Homo sapiens: one gene and its partners. Changing the gene in region 1 together with any one later gene gives a genetic interaction. Each region holds a gene or a part of one and is shown on either strand. Other genes may lie near its edges.

Evidence for each region.
Region 2: changes in MTF2 (region 1) and RABGEF1 together harm fitness more than expected from each alone (negative genetic interaction), as found in Homo sapiens cells (one large-scale study listed by BioGRID).
Region 3: changes in MTF2 (region 1) and TRAPPC13 together harm fitness more than expected from each alone (negative genetic interaction), as found in Homo sapiens cells (one large-scale study listed by BioGRID).
Region 4: changes in MTF2 (region 1) and SLC39A9 together harm fitness less than expected from each alone (positive genetic interaction), as found in Homo sapiens cells (one large-scale study listed by BioGRID).
Region 5: changes in MTF2 (region 1) and SLC30A5 together harm fitness less than expected from each alone (positive genetic interaction), as found in Homo sapiens cells (one large-scale study listed by BioGRID).
Region 6: changes in MTF2 (region 1) and FUT8 together harm fitness more than expected from each alone (negative genetic interaction), as found in Homo sapiens cells (one large-scale study listed by BioGRID).
Region 7: changes in MTF2 (region 1) and SEC23IP together harm fitness more than expected from each alone (negative genetic interaction), as found in Homo sapiens cells (one large-scale study listed by BioGRID).

What each region holds. Positions count from the first base shown.
Region 1 is NC_000001.11:93,085,696-93,089,786, forward strand, and holds part of MTF2 (metal-response element-binding transcription factor 2), read left to right. Parts: intron 1-4,091. UniProt on the Homo sapiens protein: Polycomb group (PcG) protein that specifically binds histone H3 trimethylated at 'Lys-36' (H3K36me3) and recruits the PRC2 complex, thus enhancing PRC2 H3K27me3 methylation activity.
Region 2 is NC_000007.14:66,746,743-66,750,833, forward strand, and holds part of RABGEF1 (rab5 GDP/GTP exchange factor), read left to right. Parts: intron 1-4,091. UniProt on the Homo sapiens protein: Rab effector protein acting as linker between gamma-adaptin, RAB4A or RAB5A. Involved in endocytic membrane fusion and membrane trafficking of recycling endosomes. Stimulates nucleotide exchange on RAB5A. Can act as a ubiquitin ligase.
Region 3 is NC_000005.10:65,627,636-65,631,726, reverse strand, and holds part of TRAPPC13 (trafficking protein particle complex subunit 13), read right to left. Parts: intron 2,260-4,091; exon of another isoform or gene 2,140-2,259; coding exon of another isoform or gene 1,387-2,139; exon of another isoform or gene 799-1,386; intron 1-798. Other genes in the region: SHLD3 (shieldin complex subunit 3), read right to left, coding at 1,387-2,139.
Region 4 is NC_000014.9:69,440,055-69,444,145, reverse strand, and holds part of SLC39A9 (zinc transporter ZIP9), read right to left. Parts: intron 2,315-4,091; exon of another isoform or gene 2,174-2,314; intron 2,078-2,173; coding exon 1,880-2,077; intron 1-1,879. UniProt on the Homo sapiens protein: Transports zinc ions across cell and organelle membranes into the cytoplasm and regulates intracellular zinc homeostasis. Participates in the zinc ions efflux out of the secretory compartments.
Region 5 is NC_000005.10:69,100,372-69,104,462, reverse strand, and holds part of SLC30A5 (proton-coupled zinc antiporter SLC30A5), read right to left. Parts: intron 3,657-4,091; coding exon 3,534-3,656; intron 1,402-3,533; coding exon 1,335-1,401; intron 502-1,334; coding exon of another isoform or gene 418-501; exon of another isoform or gene 1-417. UniProt on the Homo sapiens protein: Together with SLC30A6 forms a functional proton-coupled zinc ion antiporter mediating zinc entry into the lumen of organelles along the secretory pathway.
Region 6 is NC_000014.9:65,411,113-65,415,832, reverse strand, and holds the start of FUT8 (alpha-(1,6)-fucosyltransferase), read right to left. Parts: upstream 3,104-4,720; 5' UTR 2,619-3,103; intron 1-2,618. UniProt on the Homo sapiens protein: Catalyzes the addition of fucose in alpha 1-6 linkage to the first GlcNAc residue, next to the peptide chains in N-glycans.
Region 7 is NC_000010.11:119,895,614-119,899,704, reverse strand, and holds part of SEC23IP (SEC23-interacting protein), read right to left. Parts: intron 1,279-4,091; coding exon 746-1,278; intron 1-745. UniProt on the Homo sapiens protein: Plays a role in the organization of endoplasmic reticulum exit sites. Specifically binds to phosphatidylinositol 3-phosphate (PI(3)P), phosphatidylinositol 4-phosphate (PI(4)P) and phosphatidylinositol 5-phosphate (PI(5)P).

The DNA of each region.
Region 1 (4,091 bases):
CATGCTATTCTTGAACTCCTGGCCTCAAACAATCCTCCTGCCTTGGCCTCCTTAGGTGCTGGGATTACAGGCATGCCACTTGGGCCCAGCCAGGGCCAACTTTTAGCATCCATAGGTTCTATGGGTCACACTGCAGAACTTGAGTATCTGTGGATTTTGGTATCCTCAGGAGGTTCTGTGACCAGTGCCTTGTGGATACCAAGGGACAACTAAATAGCATATACATAAACCAGTAACACAGTCGTTTGTTATCAGTATTATGTATTGTACATAATGAGTATATGTGCAAGACTTTATGCTACTGGCAGTGCAGTAGGTTTGTTTTATACCAACATCACTGCAAACACATTGTAAAGCATTGCATTACAGTGGTTACAAAGTCACTGGGTAATATGAATTTTTCAGCTCCATTATAATCTTATGGGACCACTGCTGTATATGTAATCTGTCGTTGACCAAAGTTTTACTGTGTAGCACATGACTATGCTTAGAAGGAAGGATCAACTATGTAAATAATGAAGGAGGAGGCCGGGTGCATTGGCTCACGCCTGTAATCCTAGCACTTTGAGAGGCTGAGGCGGGCGGATCGCTTGAGGCCAGGAGTTTGAGACCAGCTGGGCCAACATAGTGAAACCCTGTCTCTACTAAAAATACAAAAAATTTAGCCAGGTGTGGTGGCACATGTCTGTAATCTCAGCTACTCAGGAGGCTGAGGTTCACTTGAACCCAGGAGGCGGGGGCTGCAGTGAGCTGAGATTGCACCACTGCACTCCATCCTGGGTGACAGAGCGAGACTGTCTCAAAAAAAAAAAAAAAAAAAAGATGAGGAAGAAGGGCAATTTTGGTAGTAGGTACAATATGTATGAATGCCTTGGGTGGAAAAGATCTTGGTTTGTGAATAATTGATAGGCAGCCCCGGGTGAATCTTGAGATGCAAAGACATATTCCTGTGGGAGAAGAAAACTAATATATCATATTTGACTTGTAGCTTTTTCAGCCTAGTAATTATGTTAGTTTCCCAGTTTTGTTGGTGTTTGAAGAACTATTTATAAAGTCCTTTTGTATTTATCTATGTGATAAATACAGAGCTTTGAAAATGTATACTACAGGCAGCTGTCTTTGAACTTTTTCTTGTTGTTTCAAAATTGGGCAGACAGCTACAGGTTGAATATCCCTTATTTGAAATGCTTGGGACCAGAAGGGTTTTAGGATTTTAGGCTTATTTGCATATACAAATGAGATGTCTTGGGGATGAGACCCAAGTTTAAACACAAAATTCATTTATGTTTCATACACACGTTGTATGCTTAGTCTAAAGCTTATTTTTTCGTTCGGGACACTGAATAAACTGTGTTGTGCCACCTGCGTTTTGACTACAACCTGTTACGAGGTCAGATGTGGAATTTTTCATGTGTGGTTGATGCTTAGAAAGTTTCAGATTTTGAAGCATTTCAGATTTTGGACTTTCAGGTTAGGGATGCTCAACTTGTATTAGTATCTGAGGACACTTAACAACCAAGTTGAACCATCTGTAGGAATGCATCATTTCATCACTGATAGATGACTTCAGTTAGACTTATAAAAAAGGCCTTAAGGCTGGGTGTGGTGGCTCACGCCTGTAATCCCAGCACTTTGGGAGGCCGAGGTGGGTGGATCACCTGAGGTCGGGAGTTCAAAACCAGCGTGACCAACACGGTAAAACCCCATCTCTACTAAAAATGCAAAAATTAGCCAGGCGTGGTGGCACGCACCTGTAATCCCAGCTACTCAGGAGGCTGAGGCAGGAGAATTGCTTGAACCCAGGAGGCAGAGGTTGCAGTGAGCGGAGATGGTACCATTGCATGGCAGCCTGGGCAACAGAGTGAGACTCTGTCTCAAAAAAAAAAAAAAGCCTTAATGGCAAAATATACTGTGGACAAGAGGCTGGATACTGTCGATACTGGCAGTGAATGGCCTGATTTCATTCACCAGTTGCTAAATCTGAAAATATTCTTGGCCTTCCCCACTGTATGTGACCTCGGTTCATAATTGGGATCCAAAGGTGACAAATATCTAGAATAACTTTGTCTCAGAAATAGTATCACTTAACTGGGGTTTACCATAGTAGAGCCAGGTATTACCTATCTTTCTTTACAACTTTAAGGAAGTAATTTTACTTCTGAGTTCCAGATTTTTCACTTGTTAAACAGTAGTCTTCCCTTCCTATTCTATGGCATTATTAGGAGGAGAAAATGAGATATGAATGCTTTTGAGAAAGTTAAGCAGTATAGCAAGATGAAGATATTTTCAAGCCCTTATCATCCATATGCTCTACTACCTACCAAAGATCCAGTTCATACTTTTGTTTATAGTAATTGGAACTTTTAAAACTCTAGGGTATAGTTAGTGGCTTGCAGCAAGAGCCCCTCAGTTCTCTTATTTTTTTCTCGTTGGTCTTAGGACCAGAGTCTGCAGGATTATAATGACAACGCTGAACTTTCCAGTTCATCCTTGCCTGAATTGTTAGTGGAGGCTCATTTTATGTAGTGTAATCAACTTTATAAATTCTGGACTTGAACATGAATGTATGTACCTGTACTTAATTCACATTTATCTGTGGTTTTAATGTATATTAGTGGCCTTGTTGGTTTTGGTGTTTTAAGTCTGTAGTTAACCTTTCTTTATTATTCATTGTATATGTGAGATAATATAATCAAGGATTCCTTTTGCACAAATAATTTAGATGGCTATGGGTATTGTGATGTAAAGATTTTACCAGTTGTCATATTGGCTTTTAAAAAAATCAGATATATTTTTGAAATCTATTACTGTTTCTAAATGTTTGGTATTTACCATTTTGAAAATACTTGATATATTATATTTAACAGTGTCATTTACAATTTTTTTTTGAGACAGAATCTCACTTTCTTGCCCAGGCGGGAATGCAGTGGTGCGATCTCGGCTCACTGCAACCTCTGCCTCCTGGGTTCAAGCAATTCTCATGCTTCAGCCACCCAAGTAGCTGGGATTACAGCTGTGTGCCAACGTGCCTGGCTAATTTTTGTGTTTTTTGGTAGAGATGGTGTTTCACCACGTTGGCCAGGCTGGTATGGAACTCCTGACCTCAAGTGATCTGCCTGCCTCAGCCTACCAGAGTGGAGTGCTGGGATTACAGGCATGAACCACCATGCCCAACCTCATTTACAATTTTTAAAAAAATCTTAAGATCTGTATTTTTTATAGTTTATAAAAGTTTTTTTGTGATCACAAAAATACATGCTTTTGGTAGAAACACAAACATACAAAGATGTTCTATAAAACTGACTTTTTATCGTACATTTTAAGATATTTAAAAATATTTTCTGTAATTTCATGAAGAGTACTAAAGCCACAGTCACTGACATTGTAAACACCTCTGTTCATTCTCTAACCTGTTAGGTGGTTAAGCTATTTTTAATTCTAGGGGGCTCAGGCTGAACTTGAGGTTGGGGAGGAGAATTTGCCTCTGCTTTTAGTTGCAATTTTCAAGTGAGGTGAAATTAAGTAAAATTTGTAAGAGCTTTTTTGGCTTTTTAATTCTAGATAAATACATAAATAAATTTGGGTCTCTGTAATAGAATATGTGCTTTTATAGGATAGTGATATTTGCTTGATAAATGGAGGATTTACTTACTAGTGTGTGTATTGATAAATACAGACTTTGATTAGTTTATTCAAGAGAGATTTTTAAGTCCCTACTTTATGCCATACCTTGAAAAGTTTTAGAGTTCCAGTGATGAGCAAAATGTTTACTTTCAATTGTAATTCAAAATGCAAATTCCACTTGTTTACATGGAGTTATTAGATTGTAAATTTCTAGAAAATTGTTTGATTCTGCCTTTAAAAAAAAAGAAAGATGGAGCCTCTCAAGAGTGCAGTGGTACAATCACAGCTCTCGTACTTCACTGTATCACGGTAGCGTTTGAACTCCTGGGCCCAGGATATCTTCACACTTCAGCCTCCCAGGTAGTTGGGACTACATGCTCTCACCGCTATGCCTGGCTTAATATTTTCATTGTTTTAGAGATTGTGTCTGTGTATGGGGATCTCGTTATGTTGCCCAGGCTGGTCTT
Region 2 (4,091 bases), on another chromosome or scaffold:
CCACCTGAGTAGCTGGGAATATGGGCTCCTGCCACCACGTCCGGCTAATTTTTTTTTTTGCTGGAGTGAGACTGAGTTTCAGCCTTGTTGCCCAGGCTGGAGTGCAATAGTGCGATCTTGGCTTACTACAACCTCTGCCTCCTGGGTTCAAGTGATTCTCCTGCCTCAGCTTCCCAAGTAGCTGGTGTTAACAGGCACGCGCCACCATGCTGAGCTAATTTTTTTATTTTTAGTAGAGACGGGGTTTCACCATGTTGGCCAGGCTGGTCTCGAATTTCTGACCTCAGGTGATCCACCTGCCTTGGCCTCCCAAAGTGCTGGGATTACAGGTGTGAGCTACCGTGCCCGGCCCTAGTGGAACATTTTAATTTGTTTCTGGTAGCATAGCTCTCTTGGCAATGGTCATTAAGAGGGCCAAATACCATTATTATGATCAATTAATTAAATGTGGTTAAAAGTCAGAAGTTAGAATAAGTATGTGTTCATGAATGCGTAAAATATTACACACTGAGAGAGTATTAAGCTTTTTAATTTTCCCCCAGTAACAGTGAGCAGATTGCTGAAATCTCTGAAGCAGGAATGTAACAAGAGTTTTGAGGGCTCTAAATTCTCTGCTGTTTCACCCTAAGGAATGGTTTGGCAGCATCCTCTATGCTAGGCACAGAACAACTCAGGAGGAATTGTACAAAGACCTTATGAACCACATTTGAAGCTAGTCTGTTCAGTTCCCATTCAAAATAAATACACAACTGTAATTGAATTTATGGTGATTTGGTCTGTATGCTAAAATTAAAAATCGCTTTTGGGGGATTTTCACATAGGGGTATATTTATAATTTTCTGTGTGCTTTGCAGTTAAAAATACATAGTGAAAGTTTTATTTTTGTAGTTCCTCTGTTGTACAGAGGAAATTTAAATTCTTAAAATTAGAATTTTCTAATTTTAAGCACTTTCATTTTTCCTTTAGAAGGTACTTTGGAGCACATAAAAGAAAATGCCATTAGAAATTGAACATAGAAAATGTTTATTAATCGAAGAAAATGTTTTCTTATTGTGCTATAATTTTTTTCAGTGGAACATATCATTTACTTATTCCATTATTCCACATCTTGTTCCAGAAAGGGTTTGTAATGACTTACAAAGATACGTGCGACATACTGTTGGTAACATAACAGATAAGTGGGTGAGGAATGCAGGACTGAGGGAAAATTAAGATGGAAACAGGAATGAGCTGTGTACACAGAGCACTTGGACTGAAGTCTTAAGTGCAGAGGGCCACAAATTTGGCTTTGCTTTTGAGTAGCCAATTAAGAGAGAAATATAATCAGTTACATGGGTCAGTGACCATACGACAAAAGAGATCATTTCTGCTTTGGATTCCCAAAGACTTTCCAGCATGCGTTTCAAAGGGCTGGGTGTCGAGTTTTACTTTGTGTGTTAGTAAAACTCCTTATTGGCTTTTTGTGTAAGACGGTGACATAACATCAAAACATTCCGTAAAAGCATTTCTCTTGCCTGCAAAATAATGTGATCCGAGTACTTAGATCTCTAGGCTGATTTAAGGATCTGTTTTAGATTATCTAGATGAGTAGGTGGATTGCACATTCTTCACCTACCTTCCATACTTTCTCAGTGGATCTTTTGTAATGAATTTATCAGCAGTGGGGTTTGAGTTTGTGCTTCCTCACAAGTTCCTTGAATGCATCTGTTTTCTGTTGTTGGTGAATCACGGAACCATATGTTTTAACAGGCATGGTTTATCGTGGGGGTATCACGATGGAACAGTCTGACAAGGGCACATATTTGTTTGTTTGTTTTTTGAGGAAAATCACTTTATTCTAATTAACTCAACAAAGAATAAAATCATAACGGCTAGTTCAAGGGTGCCACACAAACATCTACCCAGCCATCTTAATGAAATTCTACACAGTAAGAATTTCCTTTTCCATTGCAGTCCTGAAGCAGGGACGCTATGAGAGAGGAGAGGTTTACCTGATGATTACACTTTATACCTTCACTATCAATTGTATTTTTGTGCTAAATCACTTGGTTATGAGAGCTGATTTTCCATTTCTCCAATTCGAACTTTCTGATTAGACCAATCTGTTTGCAAGTCTGCACTGTTTCAGCACCTTATTGAAACCCTCACAGAGTTTTCTGTCACCCTGGTTCTGGGCACTCTCCAAAAACTGTTTTATGTCATAAGAGCAAGGCCGCTGCTGCTTTGCTGGCTGGGTTCCCTGAGGCTCTTGGTAGGTGATATCAGGCCTTCAGGCTCACCGTGACTTCCTCCACTGAAGCCCTGGTGGTGGCATGACCCAGTGTATGTCTGACAGGGGCACATATTTGAATGAAAGCCACCTCACCTCCATACAGAGATGGGCTGAGGGAATACCAAATATGAAGATGGGAGCAGATCCAGATCTACTCGTCTCAGATGAAATGTCCAGTAAGTTGTATTGCCTGTATTTTGCTCCAGCTGAACAGTTGCACTTTCAAGTAATAATAGTTCAAATTTATCAAATGCTAGCAGGAGCCATGCATTGTGTTAATGGAGAGAGACCATCCTTATTCACTCTTACTCAGTAAACAGTGGGTGAAACTGCCCTTGCCTAAATATAGTTATGTAATGCTGTGTTTCCTTAATTGTATATCCATAAAGCTTTTGACATTGTTTTCTAAATGTGTTCCTCAAAAAGGAGTTGGGCTAGTGACCAAAGTTTTGAATAGAATATTGTAAGAAAGCAAATACAAAGTGTAAAAACAAAAAACAGAACTTTGCGAGGTGTTGTTCACCTGTAGTCCCAACTACTTGGGAGGCTGAGGCAGGAGGATTGCCGGAGGTCAGGTATTAGAGGCTGCAGTGCACTATGATTGTGTCTGTAAATAGCCACTACACTCTAGCCTGGGCAACAAAGCAAGACTCCATCTCTAAAAACAAACAAACAGGCCAGGCACGGTGGCTCACACCTGTAATCTCAGCACTTTGGGAGGCCAAGGCGGGCGGATCACGAGGTCAGGAGATAGAGACCATCCTGGCTAACACAGTTAAACCCCGTCTCTACTAAAAATATTTTAAAAAATTAGCTGGGTGTGATGGTGGGCGCCTGTAGTCCCAGCTACTCGGGAGGCTGAAGCAGGAGAATCGCTGGAACCTGGGAGGCGGAGCTTGCAGTGAGCCGAGATCGCACCACTGCACTCCAGCGTGGGCGACAGAGCGAGACTCCATCTCAAAAACAAACAAACAAAACTACAGAATAATGAAATAGAATGTCCAAAATTTATCATAACTGGTGTCTCACGAGATAATACGTTTGGGTCCTGTTTAGCAAGTTGGATTATATTTTTATTTGTGTAAATTTATTGGCCGTTGCAGTTGGGGTTGTATTGAGAATGTAGATTTTGTCTGATGAGAGTGTAGATTTTATTTGTAGTGAGTGCATGTGGATTTTTATTTGTCTAGGGTTTTAAAAGTTGTATAGTCATGAATGGACACTTTTTAATACCATCTATGAGAAATTCAATGGCAAAGTGTTTTCATACCCATATGCTAACTGCTGATGCTTTTTATAAAACATTGTTAAGGTGTTACTTGCCCCAGGAAATACAATGTTTTATGACAGAGACAGTACTGAAATTCAGTATTTAAGTTCTTTAAATACCAGCTATGTTGAGTAGATATTACTTTCTCCCAAGAGCCTATTTTTGGTTTATGACATATTAGGGAACAAATTGCAGACACAGTTTTTTCATTACCTGTAAGAGCACTTATAGGATGTAAGCTATTTCCTTAAAGAGGAATTTTTGCCTTTTTAATACTTCTGTCTAGTAACTCAATGCATTAAAAGATACATATTTTTCTAGTGCTATAAATATATTGGTACATTTAAATATAATATACACACATATAATGGTGCTTGAGAAATAAGTTGAGATTATTTTAAGGTTAAGGTTCTTAGATTCTGACAGAAAAACTGATCAGCCAGTTGGACTACAGGTCCAACCAGTTCCAGCCCCAAACATGAGCAATAGTGATTATGGTAGTGATTCTGCCATTTACGTCAGTGAAATGCAAAGATTTCAGTTTCATTC
Region 3 (4,091 bases), on another chromosome or scaffold:
AGCAACTTTTTTCTTCATATTTTCAGATTATGGCCTTTGCAGCAACGTAGATGCAACTGGAGGCCATTATCCTAAGCCAATTTATGCAGGAACAGAAAATCAAATACCACATATTCTCATAAGTGAGAGATAAACAATGAGTATACATGGACACAAAAAACAGAACAATAGACACTGAGGCCTATTTGAGGGTAGAAGGTGGCAGGGGGTGAGGACTAAAAAACTACCTATTGGGTATTATCCTGATTACATGGGTGACAAAACTATTTGTACACCAAACCCCTGTGGCACACAATTTACCCATATCACAAATCTGCACATGTACCCCTTGAACCTAAAATAAAAGTTAGAAAGAAAAAAAAATTAGTGGGCTTCCATTTTAAGCAACCTCAGCCATCTCAGGCTATGAAGAATCCCTCTGAAGGGAATGTTTACCATGCATTATCAAGCTCCTACCATGACAGGCACTGAGCTTCAAGGTAAACATGTCTATATTCCTAGTTAAGTGCAGTCTTATTTTTCTTAGGGAGCTGGTGTGTTTAATAGTAGTAATGACATGTAAGCTGTGTGAGGGCAAGGTCCATGTCTGTCTCCTTCCCTAGTATATCCTAGCACCTAGTGCAAAGTAGGCATTTAAATATGTTAAACAAACATACATGCTTCTACAAAACTTTTACTGTTTTAATCCCTTTGAGCATTTTTATGAGGTGATGTGTAAAACCAATTACAAGATTATGCTTATGGGGAACCTACAATGACTCCAATCATCAGCCAAGTAATAATTAGCACTAACTATCATTAATACTGAATTATCTGTATTAGAAGAAATAAACAATCATTCAACATTTGATACTTTCCTTCAAAACAGGATACATTATCGTTTTAGGCAAAGTATACATTTTGTATCGTTGTTTGAAAACAGCCTATCAATTGTTATTACATATCTTTGGAAACATCATTATAAATCTAGACTAGTCTCCCACTTTGAACTACATTCATGCCACATAAATAGCACTCCAAAGAGAATTGTTTCGAGTTTTATTTTTTAAAAAATTACACTTGAGGTAAGGAAAAAAATACAGTAAAATTAGATTTTAGAGATTAACCAAAATCCAAACTATACAACTTAATTCATGACTAATTCAATCACAGTTTGTAACAAAAGGAACAGAACATTTTTACCTTCAAATTCAGTGTAAACAATAATTTATCACATTTAAAAGAAGGCTGCCAATAAGCAGAACTCAGCAATTTCTTGACTTAATTGACAAGCCTAGGAATTCTAAAAAGTCATTAAAAATTTTAAAACCTGTAAAAATTATTTTATCTATTTCAATCCATATTCATTTCATTCAGAATATTCTTTTTGACAATCAGTGGAATTCATTACATACTAAAAATAACACCATATTTATGCACAAATAAATTAATTTTTCCAGTAAGAGCTAATCTTCCTTTAAGAAGACTTCCCACATATTCACAATACATAATATCACAGAACACCCATATTTGGCCTAAATGCCTCTGAATTGTAGCATTACAAGATGGAAGTTCATTGTGCCTAATAATTTGATTGAGTTTTGTCCAAATGTCTTCCAGAGTTTGGCTGTTACAAATAGTGTGTTCTATTGTCCATCTTGCTCTATAAAGTGAGTGTAAATTTAGTGCCTTTAAACTATCTTGCAATTTTTTAGACAAAGGAGAAACGTTTTTAGTACAATTATTGCTGGGAAGGGAAATACTCCAAGATCTCCTCTTGTGCTGTTTTCCCTTTTCTGATTGTTTACCCAGATTTCCAGAATTAGTCTGTTCCTTCAGTGTGTGTGACCAGGTTAAATGCTGCTTTTTCAAGCTAGGTTGAAACTCCAATAGATCTACTGTGCAATCATAACTGTGTGACTTAGCATCATGTTCTGAAATGGTTAAGTACTGTTTCACATCTTCAGCTGCCTCTTCAGAAATCACAGGTGGTGATCTTTTAGGTCTGAGTGGAAGCTTGGACCCATCATATGGAAACCAAGGTATAAATCTTGATAGCGGACGAGTAGGAAAGTCTTGAATTGCTTTTTCTGCAATTTTTGGCAGTTGTGTGGGATCACTCTCACATGGTCGATAATGTAATATTACTTCTGTAGTCATTCTGCAGTAATCCAGTTACTCTTAGTGATGAGAAAATTTCTTAGTTGAACTCCTCAGAGCTAGAATGTTAATTTATTATTGCAAGATTGTCTCTCTTGCCAAATCAGAGGGAAACAGGACCTAAAGTAGAAGTATTGCAAAGAATAAGATATGGTAGGGATACCCTGCCTACCAACAGGCAGGGAGAAAAGGAAAAACAAAAAACAAAAACCAATCCCAATGTGGTATTTTACCAAAGTGCTATTGGTAAATGTGAATGTAATCTACAAACCTGAAAATTCTTTCTCTTACCAAAATAAGGGATCTGAACTAGATGCCCTATAAAATCACTTCCTGCCTAAAAACGCTAGTAGTCAACATGTTTAACTCAATAGATATAAAGGACTTGGAAGTATCGATATTAATATATTAAGTAATAATAGTCTTAAAACTTTAGCAGAAACAAAGAGTAAATGAATGATTCTTAAAATATTGTTTTCATATGAATTAACAAAAAATGTAATATTTAAAAATTTGAGGCAACTAAATTGAGGACAATGAAATCACTGTAAATTCTAATCCAACATGGTGAAAACCCATCTCTACTCAAAATACAAAAAAAAATTAGCTGGGTGTGGTGGCGCATGCCTGTAGTCCCAGCTACTAGGGAAGCTGAGGCAGGAGAATAGCTTGAACCTGGGAGCCAGAGGTTGCAGTGAGCCAAGATCATGCCACTCAGCCTGGGCGATAGAGCAAGACTTCATCTCATTAAAAAAAAAAAAAATTCTAATCTGTCTGGAAGAAAATTAATCATTTTATACTTAAAATTATGTAGATTTGCCAGGTGCGGTGGCTCATGCCTGTAATCCCAGAACTTTATGGGGGCCAAGGCGGGCAGATCACGAGGTCAGGAGCTTGAGACCAGCCTGGCCAACATGGTGAAACTCCGGCTCTACTAAAGATACAAAAAATAGCCGGCTGTGGTGGCGTGTGCCTGTAATCCCAGCTACTCAGGAGGCTGAGGGAGGAGAATCGCTTGAACCCGGGAGGTTGAGGTTTGCAGTGAACTGAGATCGCGCCATCGTACTCCCATTGCACTCCAGCCTGGGTGACAGGGCAAGACTCCGTCTCAAAAAAAAAAAAAAAATTATATGGATTCCACCAAACAAATATATAGATAGAATATTTGATGATTTCACGTCATTCTCTGTAGTAAAAACTAAAACCATTAATATGGTTTAACTTTGCTAATATGGTTTAACCAGGCTAAGAACCAGTTTTGTGACACTGTCTTCTCCTCATAATCCAGGCAATTAAACAGTATGGAGACCCCAATACCATGGCTTTTGAATTCCAGTTTGGAAGAGAACAAGAAGTCTAGACTCCTATTTTTTTCTCTTAGAGCACAGAAGTCCTCAAGTTGCCCCAAATTAAGTCACTGATAATAAATTCCAGCATATGGTGCATAGGCTCAAGAATGGAGCCTTCCAATATCTGCAAGTTAGGCTTGCTAATCAGGCCCAAAGCTGTAAGAGCCATAAAACAGACTTTTTCACATCCTAACAACAGCAGAAAAAAATAAGTTGAATCCCTTCTCCCCAAAAATCATTAGAGAATTACTTGATGAGGGTTCTCCCACTGCTAGGATAACCATGAGTATGGATTCTTGTCATCATTTCACAATAGAATCACTGTCTGATTCTGAAGAGTTAGAAGAAATAATTTCATTATTTTTACCTACTGATACTGCCCACTAACAGATCTGACAACTCTCAAATTCATAAATAATTGTGATCTTTAACATCCATATTTTAAATATGGATCTAAATGTTATCATATATACTTTCAAGAACTAATGATGCACTAATGTTTTTCTTCCCTGTTCCTTATACTTTCACATTGTAAAATATGGCACTGAGAAATTCTCTTGTTGTCTAAAGTCAATCAGTGTTATACTCAAGGGATGACTTTTT
Region 4 (4,091 bases), on another chromosome or scaffold:
GGTGTGATCGTGGCTCAATGTAGTCTCAACCTTCTGGGCTCAAGTGATCTTACCACCTAAGCCTCCTGAGTAGCTGCGACTACAGGCATGCCTCATCATGCTTGGGTAATTTATTTTTTTTTCGTAGAGATGGGGTCTCACCATGTCTCCCAGGCTGATCTTGAACTCCTGGTCTCAAGTGAACCTTCCCCCTCAGCCTCTCAAAGTGCTGGGATTACAGGCATGAGCCACCACGCTTGGCCACATTTCCTTTATTTTTATTATCATTATTATTTTTGAGACAGGGTCTCACTTTGTCACCCAGGCTGGAGTGCAGTGGCGTGATCTCAGCTCACTGCAGCCTCAACCTCCTGGGCTCAAGCGTTCCTCCCGCCTCAGTCCCCCAGTAGCAGGGACTCCAGGTGCGTACCACTATGCTCAGCTAATTATTGTATTTTTTGTAGAGATGGAGTTTTGCCATGTTGCCCAGGCTGGTCTCAAACTCCTGAACTCAAAAGGATCCGCCCATCTTGGCCTCCCAAAGTGCTAGGATTACAGGTGAGTCATGGTGACTGCCCCCTCATTTCCTTTAATTATGAATGCAGACAATAAACCACAAGTAATATCAGCACTATCTTTACTGCCAGTAGAAATCAGACTAATCAGGTTATTTTACAGTTGTAGATTATCTTTAAATTATCGCTTTCACTCATCACTACTTTAAATTAAGGACTTATAGAACTGCTGCCATACTGCATGATTACAGCTTTCCTGTCTGCAGATGCTCATGTGATGGAGCTGGGCAACTATCAAGTAGCTCTGCATCTAACAGTCACTCAGCCACCAAACAGTGATAGTCACAAGGCTCTCCCATTGGGGACCAAGATACTTATGCTGCTTTCCAATATTTCCTATCTGCAAAATTCCCTGCTGACATATCTGAAAAAATATGTCTACACATCAATCCCTGGAGAAGTTTTATAACTCTCAAATTTATTTCTATCACCACAGGATCGAAGTGTATCATGTATCAGAATCCTTTTTTATTAATATAAATCGTATGAAAAATGTTGACCTAGCCAAAGATAAATTCATTGATCTTAAAACAAAACAGTTACTATGACTGGAGTCAAATTTGAAAAGTCTTGGGGAATTCTAGTTGTCCTTTAGAGAAGCTTATGATTCCTTAAAAAGCAAGCTACAAATGTGTTTAGGTACATTTGTAAGAAAATACCTTTGTAAATCAAGATTTTCTACACCAATAACCATCAAAACAAAAACCCAAAATCAACTAGATGTTTAACTTGACATACATGTTGCCTTGTTACAGACTACCTCATAATTTAATGTTCTTAAGCCAAGCATATTATTATGTAATAGCTAGCATACTAATGTCCTAGAAAATAAAATTCAACTCTAACTTGTTTAGGATTTAAATGTATTATCTCATTATTTAATGCACTGATAAAGACATACATTACTATATCACAAATTTGTTCTGATGTTTTAGTAACTGTATTTCAACAAAGGTGGTTTTCTCTTTGATCTTATGTACTATGTTTTATACATTTAAAAACAATATTCCAATAAAAGGTCCACAGTCTTTAGACTGCCTAAGGGCTCCACAGCAAAAAACTAAGTTAAGAACTTCTGCCCTAGACTCTCAACCAAATGTGACAACTTTAAGACAAGCAAAGTAATAAACCAATAAACACTTCTTTGCGCCACATGCCACAACTCACTAGCTCTCCCCACTTAGTTAAATGTTCACTAGAACCCAAGGAAGACAAGAGTTTTAGCACTAAATATGGCCACTGATACAGACTGAAATATTTGATCGTTTGTAACTTTCTCAACTGCAAATGTATTGCACTGCCCAGAAAGCCTTGGAGCCACTCACCGTCAGTAGAATGCACATGGGAGTTACCAATCTGGTCCACCAGCAACATGAAAACGAAGCCCAGAACGAGGGAAACACCAATATAGGCATGCAGCTGTGTGTGGTCGTGGCTGTGCTCATGTTCATGGACAACTGATTTTTCTGCTGCTTTGTCTGATGCAATCACATTATGTGTTTCACTTGCTTGGTGGTGTTTTCCTAGAGCAGAATAAACCATAAAGAGAAAATATGTTTTTCCCCTAAAAACATTTTCATGTAGGAGTTTCCATTCTTTGTATTTCAAGCTCTACTTACTTTACTGTAAAGACATCCACTTTTTATATTGTAATCCAGCCAATCATTAACTCCTTCAACTTAAAGTTCATGATGAAAAAATTCCCAAATGTCTTCTGCCTTTGGCATGCAGACCTTCTGACTGCCTATTATTCTCAACACCTGGGAAGTGGAAGCAAATCACCATGCAAGAAAGCAATCATATTCCCAAAGGGACACCATCCCCAAATATTCCTTTATCTGAGAAATTCATGCCAATCTCACCAGAAAATACACTGTTTTTTTCTGATGAAAATAGGCAAATGAAGAGCAGTAACAATGAAAATAATTGCAATCAAATTCATCTAGTTTATACCTAGGCTGAGATAAAAATGTAAAATAAGGAACAAATTGAGTAGAAAATTTTTAGCTTTATAAAATATCAGCAGACAATTGCCAGCAAGAAACCAAAAGGGCAGAGCAGTTTAAGAGGCACATCCTTCAGTCTAAATTCAGTTCTAGAAATATGGAGGTTGGGAGACTCTGAACTGCAGTAAATGATACCTGGCCAGCTGATAATCCCAGTTTACAGTAACATATTTGTCATTTAAAACATAAATGCTTCAAAAGGCCAAAAAGCTTATCTTTGCTATATTTCATGAATAGAGAATAACATACTAGACATTTATCATTTATAATCAGATTAAGCAGTTTAAGCCTTCTTTAAAAATTGAGACAAGGTCTCATCTTTCACCCAGGCTGGAGTACAGCAGTGGTGCAATTATGGCTCACTGCACCCTCGACCTCCCGGGCTCAAGCAATCCTCCTACCTCAGCCTCCCAAGTAACTGGGAAACCACAGGCAAGTACCACCATAACCAGCTAATTTGAAAATTTTTTTGTAGAAATGTGGTCTCCCTATGTTGCCTAGGCTGGTCTTGAAATCTGGGGCTCAGGTGATCCTCCCACCTTGACCTCCCAAAGTGGTGGATTACAAGTATGAGCCACTGTGTCCAGCCTAGAGATCCTGTCTCTTAAAAACAAAACAAAACAGGCCAGGTGCAATGGCTCATGCCTGTAATCGTAGTACTTTGGGAGGCCAAGGGGGGCAGATCACGAGGCCAGGAGATCAAGGCCAACATGGTGAATCCCCGTCTCTACTAAAAATACAAAAACTAGCTGGGCACGGTGGCGCGTGCCTGTAATCCCAGCTACTCAGGAGGCTGAGGCAGGAGAATCGCTTGAACCAGGGAGTCGGAGGTTGCAGTGAGCCGAGATCACGCCACTGCCTTCCAGCCTGGCAACAGAGGGAGACTCTGTCTCAAAAAAACAAAACAAAACAAAACAGTTTCACAAAATAATATCCAACCTTACAACAGTTACAATGTACTCTTCTGTTTCTTTCTCTGTCTCTCTCTCTTTCTTTCTTTTTGAGACAGGTATGGCCCTTTCACCCAGACTAGACTACAGTGGTGCAATCTCAGCTTACAGTAACCTCCATTTCCTGGACTGAAGTCATCCTCCTACCTCAGTCCCCCAAGAATCTGGACTACAGATGTGAGCTACCAAGTCCTGCTAATTTTTATATTGTTTTTGTGGAGATGTAGTTTTGCCATGTTGCCCAGGCTGGTCTCAAACTCCTGAGCTCAAGTGATCCGCCCACCTTGACCTCCCAAAGTGCTGGGGTTACAGGCTTGAGCCACCGTGCCTGACACTATTCTTATGTTTTTGAGACAGAGTCTCACTCTGTACCCAGGTTGGAGTGCAGTGGCATGATATCGGCTCACTGCAACCCTGTGCCTCCAGGGTTCAAGTGGTTCTCATGCTTCAGCCTCCCGAGTAGCTGGGTTTACAGGTGTACTACATGGTGAGTTCTTGCAAGATCTGATGGTTTTTAAGGGGCCCTTCCCCTCTTCATTTAGCACTTCTCCTTCCCGCGGCCTTGTGAAGAAGGTGCCTTG
Region 5 (4,091 bases), on another chromosome or scaffold:
CAAGACAGTATTCTTATTCTGGGCCGGGTGCTGTGGCTCATGCCTGTAATCCTAGCACTTTGTGAGGCCGAGGCAGGCAGATCACCTGAGGTCAGGAGTTCAAGACCAGGCTGGCCAATGTGGTGAATGAAGCCCCGTCTCTACTAAAAATACAAAAATGAGCTGGGTGTGGTGGTGGGTGCCTGTAATTCCAGCTACTCAGGAGGCTGAGGCAGGAGAATCGCTTGAACCCGGGAGGCAGAGGTTGCAGTGAGACAAGATCGTGTCACTGCACTGCAGCCTGGGCGATGGAGCAAGACTCTTTCTCAAAAAAAGAAAGAAAAAAAAAAAGGACAGTATTCTGTTTTCCATTATCTATATTCTTGTCTGCTGGTAGATTTTGAAATCTTTTTCTTCAGAGTACAATTTTATGATTTCTCAGTTTCCCACTAGTTTCCTAGGATCATTTAACTTTTTGTCTTTAAATTCTTTTCTACCAGGAATTTTTAGTGATCCAATTATCTGAAAGGAGAGAAAAAAGTTAAAATGGGGTTTAGACTATTAATCATATTTTAAAAAATGTTCTTGGTCTCTGAAACAGAAGTACTTAAATTCGTCTTTCTAATAAAAAAATTATGACGCAGGTTTGTAAGTCATGGCATAAAGCAAACATGTACTATGGTATAACTGCTGCCCAAAGAAGTGACGATGTGAGATGATTATGCAAAATGTAGGACATTTCTAGTTTGAATCACAGCTGCCTAAAGAGAACAGTGACAATGATCATGAGGGTGTCACATTGTCACAATGATGATGAGGCATCATTCTAAGAACTTCATAAGTATTAATTCATTTTTCCTCACAGTTCTGTTAGGAAGTTACTGTTATCTCCATTTTACAGTGAGCAAATTAAGGTAGAGAGAAATCAAGTAACTTGCCCAAAGTAAGGGTCAGTAAGGAGGACAGACAGAACATGACTTTGTCTGACTCCAGAAATCACACTCTTAACCCCTATGCTTTGTCAGCTTTCCAGTGACATTTGTACTAGGCTCTTGGGCATGCTTTCATGTCCAATTTGTAAATCTTTCAGAATAAGAAGTGTGTACTGAAGAAAACAATTACATGAATGCTTTATAATTTTTTTTACCCTCTTGTTTTTTTTAAAAACATTCCATGATCTTAGTACTTTATGATTTAAAGTCTCCATTCTGAAAAGACAAGAGCAAGTTAACTCTAAAATTGTTCTGTGGCATACTTAAATCATTCATTAAGTACCCATTATAAAAAATAAGCATTGCCTCCTGGCCCACTAAACGAGAAGCTGCTAGGAATAAAAGATTCTGCAAAAATCTTACCTGGTGTTTGGTAATAGTTTTCCCAGAAGAAAATGGCTTTTGAAACAAAACCATAAAAAATGCAGTCCTGTAAATATTGAAACATTAATATATTAATATTAATCCATATTAAACACAAGATACAGTTTTAAGTAAAGACACTTATTTTAAACAAATATGCCAGAACTTGAAGTGTTATCCTCTGAATAAATCATACTGGAGAATTAATTATACTTATTTTAGTAAAACTCCTATTGCAATATTTTGATAACTTTTTTTTTTTTTTTTTTGAGATGGAGTCTTGCTCTGTCACCAGGCTGGAGTGCAGTGGCACGATCTTGGCTCACTGCAACCTCTGCCTCCCGGGTTCAAGCAATTCTCCTGCCTCAGCCTCCTGAGTAGCAGGGATTACAGGTGTGCGCCACCACGCCCAGCCAATTTTTCGTATTTTTAGTAGAGATGGTGTTTCAACACGTTGGCCAGGCTGGTCTCGAACTCCTGACTTCAGGTGATCCGCCTGCCTCGGCCTCCCAAACTGCTGGGAAAACAGGCATGAGCTATCACACCTGGCCGAGAACTCTTATTTTCTAACTGTCTTCAGAACCAGCTAACAAGCCACAAAAATAAAGGAGTCACAATTTTTTTTATATCTTAAAATATCAAAGAAGAGAATTCCTATTTTCTCTAAAATTCAGTAATAAATCTTGAAATAGTATAATGAAAATGAAGAAATTACTAATTATATATCCCTACCTTTCACATTGCCAAAATAGTTATATAAAAATGCACACAACTTGGCCAGGCACAGTGGCTCAAGCTTGTAATCCCAGCACTTTGGGTGGCCGAGGTGGGCGGATCACCTGAGGTCAGGAGTTGGAGACCAGCCTGGCCAACATGGCAAAACCCCGTGTCTACTAAAAAAAATACAAAAATTAGCTGGCCATGGTGGGACACACCTGTAATCCTAGCTACTCAGGAGGCTGAGACAGAATTGCTTGAACCCTGGAGGCAGAGGCTGCAGTGAGTTGAGATTGAGCCACTGCACTCCAGCCTGCGCAACCTAGCCAGACTGTCTCAAAAAAAAAAAAAAAAAAAAAAAGCACGTCACTGGTGCTTAATATTTCCTAGTCAATAATCTCTTTCCCAACTTACCAAAATTATACTTCGAAGAGTGTTGTTTTTGTTTTTTTTTTTAAATGGAGTCTCGCTCTGTTGCCCAGGCTGGAGTGCAGTGGCATGATCTCAGCTCACTGCAACCGCTGCCTCCCAGGTTCAAGCAATCCTCCTGCCTCAGCACCCCTTGTAGCTGGGATTACAGGCACATGCCACCACGCTTGGCTAATTTTTGTATCTTTAGTAGAGACAGGCTTTCGACATGTTGGCCAGGCTGGTCTCCAACTCCTGACCTCAGGCGATCCACCTGCCTCCGCCTCCCAAAGTGCTGGGATTACAGGCATGAGCCACCGTGCCCAGCTGACTCCCAAGAGTCTTTAACAGGTTTTTATTAACACAGAGGGTGGTCACTATCAATCTCAAGGTCCAAGAAATCTTTATTTAGAATTTCTTATATGTAGGCCAGGCGTGGTGGCTCATGCCTGTAATCCCAGCACTTTGGGAGGCTGAGGCGGGCAGATCACAAGGTCAAGAGATTGAGACCATCCTGGCCAACATGGTGAAACCCTGTCTCTATTAAAAATACAAAAATTAGCTGGGCATGGTGGTGAGCGCCTGTAGTCCCAGCTACTCGGGAGGCTGAGGCAGGAGAATCGCTTGAACATAGGAGGCAGTGATCTTGCAGTGAGCCAAGATCACGCCACTGCACTCCAGCCTGGTGACAGAGTGAGACTGTGTCTCAAAAAAGAAAAAAAAAAAGCATTTCGTATAAGTAGAATAAATTAATGTTCACACTACATGAGGACTCTGTACTAAGAAAGGATTATGCAGTGAATAATAATAATAATAAATAGCCCAAAAACTAAATTTGCAAAAATCTCATCAAAGTTTGTGTTTAGGCAAGTGATTAGAGCACAACAATCCGTTTTCTTTTCAGTCTCTTTGTACCTCTAATCTTAAGTATACTCCCAGTTAAAAAAGTTTATCAAATACTTGTCAGGAGGAACAAACAAAATATTGTATGTAAAGTTTCTTAAAGATACTCTGTTAAAACAGGATTTTCAAAGAAATAAAAAATATCAAGAAAAAACCCCCCCCCACACTCACCCAAGTTTTAATATAAAAATGAACTGAACAATGTGAACAGCTTTTAGGAGATCATATGATTCGAAAAGTCCCACAGCCTTCAAAAATTTAGTGAAACATAGTAACACAATATATTTTGTTAATCTGAAAAATAAAAGCAGAAACAATTTTTAGTATCACTGAAATTACAAGCAGCTCATCAATCTGGTTTTTTAAACAAGAGGTCATTACAGAAACCACAGAAATATACATAAACACAAAATGAAACAAAACAGAGTCCCCAAACAACTCACCATCCACGTGATAACTACTGTTGACTTTTTTTTTTTTTTTTTTTTAACTCATAGAGACGGGGTCTCAATGTGTTGCCCAGGCTGGTCTCGAACTCCTTTGGTCAAGCGATCCTCCAGCCTTGGTCTCCCAAAGTGCTAGGATTACAGGTGTGAGCCACCGCGCCCTACTGTTAACATTTTGAGGCCAGGTGCAGTAGCTTGAGACCAGCCTCCGCAACGTGGCAAAAGCCTATCTCTACAAAAAATACAAAGAATTAGCCAGGCATTATGGTGCGTGGTAGCAGTC
Region 6 (4,720 bases), on another chromosome or scaffold:
AGGCACACATTCAATTTGGTAGATCAGCTGGACGCACTGCATTATACTGCAGGAGATAAGGGTTAAGTGACCTGGGGATATTGTTCTCCAGATGTCTAAAAGGTCCATTTTTTTATTGGAATTATCTCTACTTTAAAAAAAAAAAAAAAAGGAATTATATCTACTTTTGATAAATACCTAGCTTACCACACAATTAATACCTTCGCCCATATAAGATTCTACTTGAAGCTTCGTTTTTGAAATTTTAGGATTGTAGCTATTATAAAAACAAAATTTAAGAACACACAACATGTACAATGGGTCAAGAATACATGCCTTAGATTCTGATGAACAGGACAAGAAGGTTAAGAAAATACTATAACATACTCTAAGTTTGGGGGTACATTTTAGAGATTTTTAAGTGAGAAATCCAATAAATCTTTAAGCATTTAGCTTTCCATTATTGCAGCGCATGAAAAGACTTTTTTAAACTAATTTGTAATACACAATATATTCACTCCACAAATAACTATGTACATATATATGCCCACATCAATTTCCTACTCTTTTAATTAAAAATTTATGTTTCTTTTGGTCATAAAAATCTGGTTTTGGGTGTTTTAAAAGTTCAAACAGCTATTAAGCTATACTTTGCTTTGGCACTAGCTCCCCCTCCAGACCAATGTACTAATATAACAGCATTTTTAAAAATAATAAGTTAACAGTTTTTTCCAATCCACTGGCAAATTTTAAGATTCACCACTTTTAAGGACACTCCAATTGCGTAAAAATAACTGGTAAGAATTTGCAACAAAACAATGCAGGATGTAATCAGAATTAGTTTTGTTTTGTTTTTTTCGATTCCATACATCTTAAACAGAACTGATTTGTAGGAAAACAACTTCAGGTGACTTTTTAAATTCAAAAATATCCTCAAAATATAACCTATATAAGGCCGTACTTTATGGAAATTATTTTGAATCACTATCCTATTACACAAGACACTCTTCAAGTTAACTCACAACTTGACCAAAGATACATTTTTGCATCTGTTTCTGCAATCTATGCAAGTTTCATTCCAGCTGTTCAGCTCTTGAATTCAAATAGAATTCTCAATTTATAAGGCAGCAAAAAGAAAATCCATGTCTTGGAACTACCTTTGTACGTGTCTTATAGCCTATTCATCTCTAACTCCCTGCATTTTTTACACACTAAACCTGTGAAATCACAATTACAAATGCTTGAATTCCCACCTTTTCAATACTACTGTAGTATTTACAAATCAAGTAATTAAGATTTTCTATACACATACCAGATTTCACAAGGACAGCAAGGTACAGGGCCTTATTATTTGGCATAGGGTTTTAAGATGTTTTTACAGTTATTTTAAAGAGCAGAGACTACAACTCCATTATTTCTCATATATCTGATATACTGTAGTGCTTAAATAATAATTTCTCTCCTAAAATACTTTCTATATGATGCACCTATTTAAAGAATTAGTCATAAAACATAGAATGTAAATTTAATCAAGAAAATAAACATGCACCTAACCGCCGGAATAACAAGAAAAAAAAAATCTATAATGAAACCTGCCTACAGTTTTCATAGAGGCAAGCCAGTTAAGTCAGTTACTTGAGATGCGTTTAACTCTAAACTGACACAAAACTTGTGTTGAATTTGTTCCGCAAAACCTTGAAATTTGGGGTTATGTACTACAGAATTTGGCTTTTCTGGGTCCACCTTCCTGAGTGGGTTTAAATAAACTGTGAATAATTAAAACATAGGAAGGAAAAAAACACCACCTGTCCGTGCCTTTAACCAAGGCCTCAATCTATATATTATATGGCAAAATGCTAAAATAAAAGCTCATCCGGGACAAACCCTAAGCATGACACTGCCACTTAAGAAATACACTGCGTCTCTGAAGATTGCAATCCCCACTGTGAAGAAAGAACAGGTGCTGCACCCGACAACCCACTCAATCCTGCAGGACAAACCTCCTAGAACTGATAAATATGGACTCATTTAACCTTCCCAAATAAGTTGATACTCAAAAGCCGCCAGCTCGTCATTTGCACATCAAAAGGGAGTACAGCTGCACTCAAGCCTTTAACTGCCCTGCATCAGTCCCTCGCGGATCTTTGTGAGGGTCCACTCCCTGCTTTCTAGCCCGAGCAGCACTCAGAAAGAGCCCATAACGCACGGGCATCTTCCTCCCCACAAACCGCGACTCCAGGGACCGAGCTGCTGACGAAGGGAAGGTAGGTGTGGAGGGGAAACGACGGACACCTCCCACCCCCGCCCCCAACCCTTCTCCTTCCCTAGGCTTTGGCCCCTGCCCTAGGCAAGGATGCGCGACGCCGAGGGCAGCAGCGGCGCAGCTCCGCGTCCCGGCTGGAGAGGCGGGCGCCCCTCACCCTCTGCCCGCGCCCCCGGGGCTGCGCCAAGGCATCCGCCAGAGCGTCCCGGGGGCTCCCTCCCCACTTTTCCGAGAGCCGCTGGTTAACCGGCAGCAGTTGCAGCAACAGGCCCGGGTGAACGAGCAGGGACAGCCGCGGAGCCTCCTCAGATCCCGCGCGCAGCCCAGCCCAAGACCCCGAGGCGCGCGGGGCCCGGCTCCCAAAACGCCCCCTTACCCCAGGCGGGAGCAGAGGCGGTCTCCGCCGCTCCCCGTCGCAGCTGCCAAAGCCACAGCCCTCAGCCGCAGCTGCCCCACGATGGGGGAGTGGGAAGGGTGGCTGAGTGGAGGATGCTACTCCCGACCGAACGGAGAGGAAGAAACGGAAACAGGAACCGCCGCCGCCGCTTAACGGAGCCTTCGGCGCCACTGACTGAGGCAGAGCGCGAGGCGGCGCGAGCCGGGCAGTCGCTGACAGCGCGAGACCGAGAGCGAGCTGGGTCCAGGGCGCGCGACCCTGAGCAGTGCCGGCCCCATTCCGCGGGGAGACGAAGGGACGGGTCGGCTGGGGCCAGGCGGCGGGGGTGGGATGGGGAGGGGGCCTGGAGAGGAGGGAACCGGCTGCTCGGGTCGGCCGGAGATAACGCGCGCACGCGCCGGAGCGGCTCTGACAACGAGCGCAGGCGGGGAAGCCTCGGCCAGCGCCGGCGTGCGCGCGCGAATGGGGGAGCGCGCCCCTCGGCGTTCCTGGCTTCTGGGAGAGGGCGCGCATGCGCCGGCCGCTGCCACCTACGGCGACCCTGGCATGTGCCAGGGATTCTCCCCGCCCCCTTCCTCGCTGCGCCGGTGGAGAGCGTAGCAGCAGCATCCACCGCCTAGCAGAGCCGCGGGCCACAGCGGGACGGCACAGTTCCAGCAGGGCAGCGGCTGCGCACGCCGGCTCCGGCTCGCACACAGGCGTAGGCCGCCCTCTACCGCCTGAAGGCCGGAGGCTGAGCGGGGCGCGAGCGGATCCTGGATCCCGGGAGGAGACTCGCCTCCAGAGAATGCTGTGCTCCCTACAGCGCCGGGAATGGACCGGCCCGTGCCAGCTCAGTCGGCGGCCCTAGGGGGCACCCGCACTAGAGGTTTTGAAGCTGGCTCCTTGCTACTTTTAGGGGTGCGCGCTGCTGCTGCTCAGCCCCTGCAGCCCGCATTTGGCCGCTTGACTGCTGCTTCCAGCGCGATCCTACAATGGCATCGCTCCCCCAGGAGACTCAGCGAAGCCCTACTTTATCTTGTAAGAGCTGTTTCCACATTCACTCGAAGAGAAAGACCCCCCCCACGAGGGCCTGAGTTCGATGCCCGGCCTCTCCCGACCCGCGGCTGCGACAGCCCCTCTGAGGCGGAAGTTTATTTAGTACGGGAAAGAGAACAGCACGGGGAGAGGGGAGAGGCTTTGCCCTAGGATGCGTCCTACCCGCTCGGACTCGGAAAATTCCCGGCGCCCGCGATGCAGAGCAGTGGACCGAAGGGCTGCCCCAGAGCAGCCCAGACCGCCAGCTGAGCGGGAGGACCGGAGCGCGCCGCCCCAGCACACAAAGTAGTCGCGGGACGAGGGGTGCCGCCGAGGCCAATCAGAGCTGCGCGCCGCGTGAGTGGAGTGCGAGCCGGCCAATCAGAGGGCCGGAAGATGAGCTTCCCGTTCCAAACTCTTCCCTGTAGCCTTGGGACCCAGATCCCAAGCCTGGGGCGCTTTACGGTGGGAGAGCGAAATGGTGCCCTTAAGACAAGAATCATTTCTCTAGGCTTGGGCATTTTAAAGTACATACCGGGGATACTTATCCCAAAGCAAGTAGCGGCGGCCTTTTAGATGTTAAATATTAAAAGATCACAGAAAGGAGATTTAAGAGGCAGTGGCCTGTCAAGGTTGCAATCTGCCTAATATTCATAAATTCACATATTTATTGAGACCTTCTTATGTACCAGGAACTCTATCACAGATACACAAATAAGGTACTGCTGATTCAAAAGAAAATCCCTTGTCCTCAAGCAGCTCAGGTTGTGAGGGAGGCTTTCCTAGACCTTGAGACTCGTATTTATTGTCAGCTCTTTAAACAAAAAGCACTCTATGAAGTGCTGTACTTTACAGTCGTTTTTATGATTATCTCCCTGTGAGAAAAGAAAATTGAAAGGAAAGTAGAGTGACTTGTCCAAGATCACACAGAAGATGTACTAGCAGAGCCAGAATTATGTTCTAGCTCAGTTTGGGTGTCATCATTCAATAAAATAATTCAATAACAATTTGTAAATGCATGGATGCTCTCTCCCATGAGATTTCTGTACTAAACGTATAAGCAG
Region 7 (4,091 bases), on another chromosome or scaffold:
TTTCAGAATGCCGAAATCCAACATTGTCAAAAATTTGTGTATTGGTATGATTTAAATGAAATGATAAAACAGAGTCCATTCTCTATCTCTAACAGAGAAGTTAGTTACATTCTGATCACAATACTGCTATCTCCACCACACTGAAATGGGTTCTTAATTCTTTTTAATCATTTCTCTTTTTGTTTAATTCTGTTGATTTTTCTTTGGAAATCAAATAAACAATTAGTTGGGAAAAATGCATAAGGGAATTTCATGAAATTTACCCAATGCATACGTTATTCCACCAACTCTCCCTAGATAGAGTTTGACTGATCTAGATCCAAACTCCATAAAGAAATTACTGAAGTAATCAATTTTAGTCCCTGTAATTGAGTGTTTTGATTGACTAGTGTAATTGAAAGATGAGAAACTAGCAGTCTGTTAAGACAATAACCGCTTCAATTCTCCTATGTCTCTAGACAACACTTATTTTTACCGTACTCTAAAATCTGGAAATACTGACACGTAGCTAACTCATTAAAATCAGTTACTGCTTCAATAAACAGGTAATATACACTAAAATATGAGCCATCCAATAAGCTATCTTTAAGACAATGTTTACTTCATGTAGCTTACAAAGAATACCCTCTGAAACTAATTTGTCACCATATTGATTATAAGATGTGAAATGTTTTTTAAAACATAGGTTCAGGTGAGAAAGAAGACACAGAGTGAATAAGTAGGACACAAAATCATGTCTCCATACCGGTGGCAAAGATCCTGGAGGCATCTGGTACATCTGAACAGGGGGTCCAGAAGGTGGAGGATGAGCAGGAGGGCCTGGTGTTTGGCACTGCTGCAGCTGGGGTGGTGCAATGTAAGGATTAGCCCTGCTGCTGCCAGGGGTATGGCGATATGGATTGTATCCTGGTTGGGGAATTCCTTGGGGTTGGTTCCCAAAATATGAAGGAGGGAGACTACTTGGCTGAGAAGGCAGATAAGAATTTATTCCCATCAGTGAGGAAGGTGGAGCACCAGGTTGAGCCTTCGAAATGGATGGTGAAAATGCATTCGAGACATCTTGGGATCCAGTTGTAAAAGGGAGAGCAGTCAGGGGCTTGGGGAATCCTGATTGTCCAACTGAGGTTGCTGCAGTTGTTAATGGTGACTGTCCAATATTCCCAAAAGGATCACTGCTGCTTGATACCTGAGAGAAGTAACTAAATGTCTGTGGGGCAGATGTGTGAATAGAAGTCTGACCAAGGAAGCTGTCCTCCTCACCAACATCTGTGGAATCCTCTGAAATGGAACAGGAGAGCATGTGGTTTAAAGGGTACTCTATCACTCCGCAGATACGATTCTATAAGGAAGGGCTAGCAATTATACTTCCTTATTTGTTCTTCAAACTTGCTATTTCTGCATTACAGAAAAAAACAGTTTTTTCTTTTTTTCTTTGAAAACTTGCTTCTTAGAAATGAAAAACTAGAAAACATGAATAAGAAAACATAAGAGGAAACAATTATAATTCATTCATAAGCCCACCTGCCAGAGACAATCACGCTGTTAACACTGTTAACATTTTGCTACATACCCTTCCATACTTCTAAAATAAATACAAATAGTTATTTATTTTGTAAATATATATTTGTATATGTTTTTAAAAATAGAAACAAAATCTATACTTACTATTTTTATTTATTTTTTTTTTTTTATTTTTTTTTGAGACGGCGTCTCGCTCTGTCGCCCAGGCTGGAGTGCAGTGGCGCAATCTCAGCTCACTGCAAGCTCCGCCTCCCAGGTTCACGCCATTCTCCTGCCTCAGCCTCCCGAGTAGCTGGGATTACAGGCACCCACCACCACACCCAGCTAATTTTTGTATTTTTTTTTTTTAGTAGAGATGAAGTTTCACCATGTTGACCAGGCTGGTCTTGAACTCCTGACCTCAAGTGATCTGCCTGCCTTGGCCTCCCAAAGTGCTGGGATTACGGGCATGAGCCCCCGTGCCCAGCCTTACATATTATTTTTTATCTTTTTTTCTTGGTAAGAAATAATTCAACTGTTACTCGACTACCCAAATACATATATTTTTATTTCTATAGTGATAACAAGAGACTAAAGATAACTCTGTTGACAAGAAGGGGTGTGTCAGGAATCTCACCTACAAAGCACTTATTGTACAAATGAACACGTGGTATTTGTATTCCCAAGTAGGTCAACCATTAATTGCCATTCCCTAAAATCATGCACTATCACAGACTTATCATTACAGAATACCAAATTGCTGAGAAGGTCACTTTCTAACCAAGGGAAGATCTCCCATCCCTTTGCCCAACTTGATGTTCACTGTGGGTATTAACGACTCCAAATAATTTAGCTTCTGTTCTACTACCAAGTTGTAAAATAAAAGCATCTTCCCTGTATATCACCTCAAAAGTCCACGTTACTATTATTCCTTACGAAACTTTTATGTTCCCTAGCTTGTAGCTTTCATATTCCTCCTCCTAATCTTCCCTGCTCCTGCCTCATTCCCTCTTACCTCCTTGCTGGAGGCATGGAATCCATCAGAGGGCTGGACTCACTCACAGCACACAGGCACACTTCGGTCCCTGCCCTTGGAGACCTGCCAACAGGCAGCCTTATTCCAAGCTCCGGGCTCCAAGCTTCTTGACCTCTGCTGAGACTAGGGCTTGAGCTTCTTGAGCTCTCATTATTTACACACATCAGTTTAACTAAAATACTCCACCATTCAAAATACTCCTTTTGGTAGTTTCTTTGTAACTAAAAATAAAATATCCCTTGCTGCACAAGGCCTTGTGTCTACTTGAATCATTCCACTTCTCTGATATATTTCCAGCTCCCACCCCTCTTTTCAGGTCAGTGACCCTCACTTGGACTTATTTGTATTTCTTAGTTCATTCCCAACAATTAAAAGAATGAAAAAAAAAAAAACTCAGTGGTATCTTTCATCCTTTAGAAAAACTTGAGGTCAACCTGGTCCGAGAAACTTTTTTTCTGATTAGCATCAACTACAAATGAAGTGCTCTCCATATACTGCTACCCTCACCTCAGGGGCACTTTCTCATTTCATTTGGACACATGTCATCTAAAGCCACAACTTTAACAGGCACTTGTATATTTGTGACACTCCCAACTCCATCGTAAGCCCAGACCATTCTCGTGTGTTCCAGAACTTGTTTTCCAACTACTTCCTCAATGTTTTTGGCAGATTCAGTCACATATACCTCATGCTTAGTAAGCCTAAAACGGAGTTTATCTTAACTACCCACCTCCATGCTCCCTTTTCTGTATTTCACAATCTCCACAGATGTTTGCCAACATTCATTCAGACATTCAAACCAGAAACCTCAAGTCTGAGACTCCTCCCTCTCTCTCAAACCCTTCATTTAATCATTCAAATATTTATTCAAGAAATATTTACTCAGGATGCATTCTGTGCCAGGTACAGAGCTCAGTCTTGGGTCTAAAACTAAACAAAAATGGGCCTCTGTTCTGACAGACAGAGCTGACACTCTGGTCTTCTGTGAGTCTCTACAACTGTATAGTCCACACATCTCGCACATCTGCTCCCTGCTCCTCACACCCAATGTGGCTGACTCAGGCTAGACTGCCATAGCCACTGCCAGCCTCTCACTATGCCTCCCAACTGAATCCTCTTGCTACAGTCAACCTTATTCCAGTGCGACTAGAGAAAACTCCAGTCTTTCTGAAACACACGTCTAATTTCACTGCCTTGTTGAAAATCCTTCAAAGGCTCCCCAACACCCCACAAGATGAACTACAAACTCCTCCTGAGTATGGCATATGTGGCCCATAGATCACTGAGGCCACTCCACTGCACACACTCTAGTCAAAGTGATCTACTGGGGGCAGAGGACACAGGGGAGAGGAGACAAAGGTGAAGGGACAGGAGAGAGGGATGAGCTCCATCCCTGTCCCATTCCACCAACCACTAACTCCTGCCAAATCTGAAGATTTTTTCACACCTTCAGACTTCACATATGCCTGTCTCTCCAGTTTCCCTCACTTCTATGTATCCTTCAACACTCAGCTCAAGCATCACCTCCCCTAAGAGGCCCTGAAGGCCTAAGGGA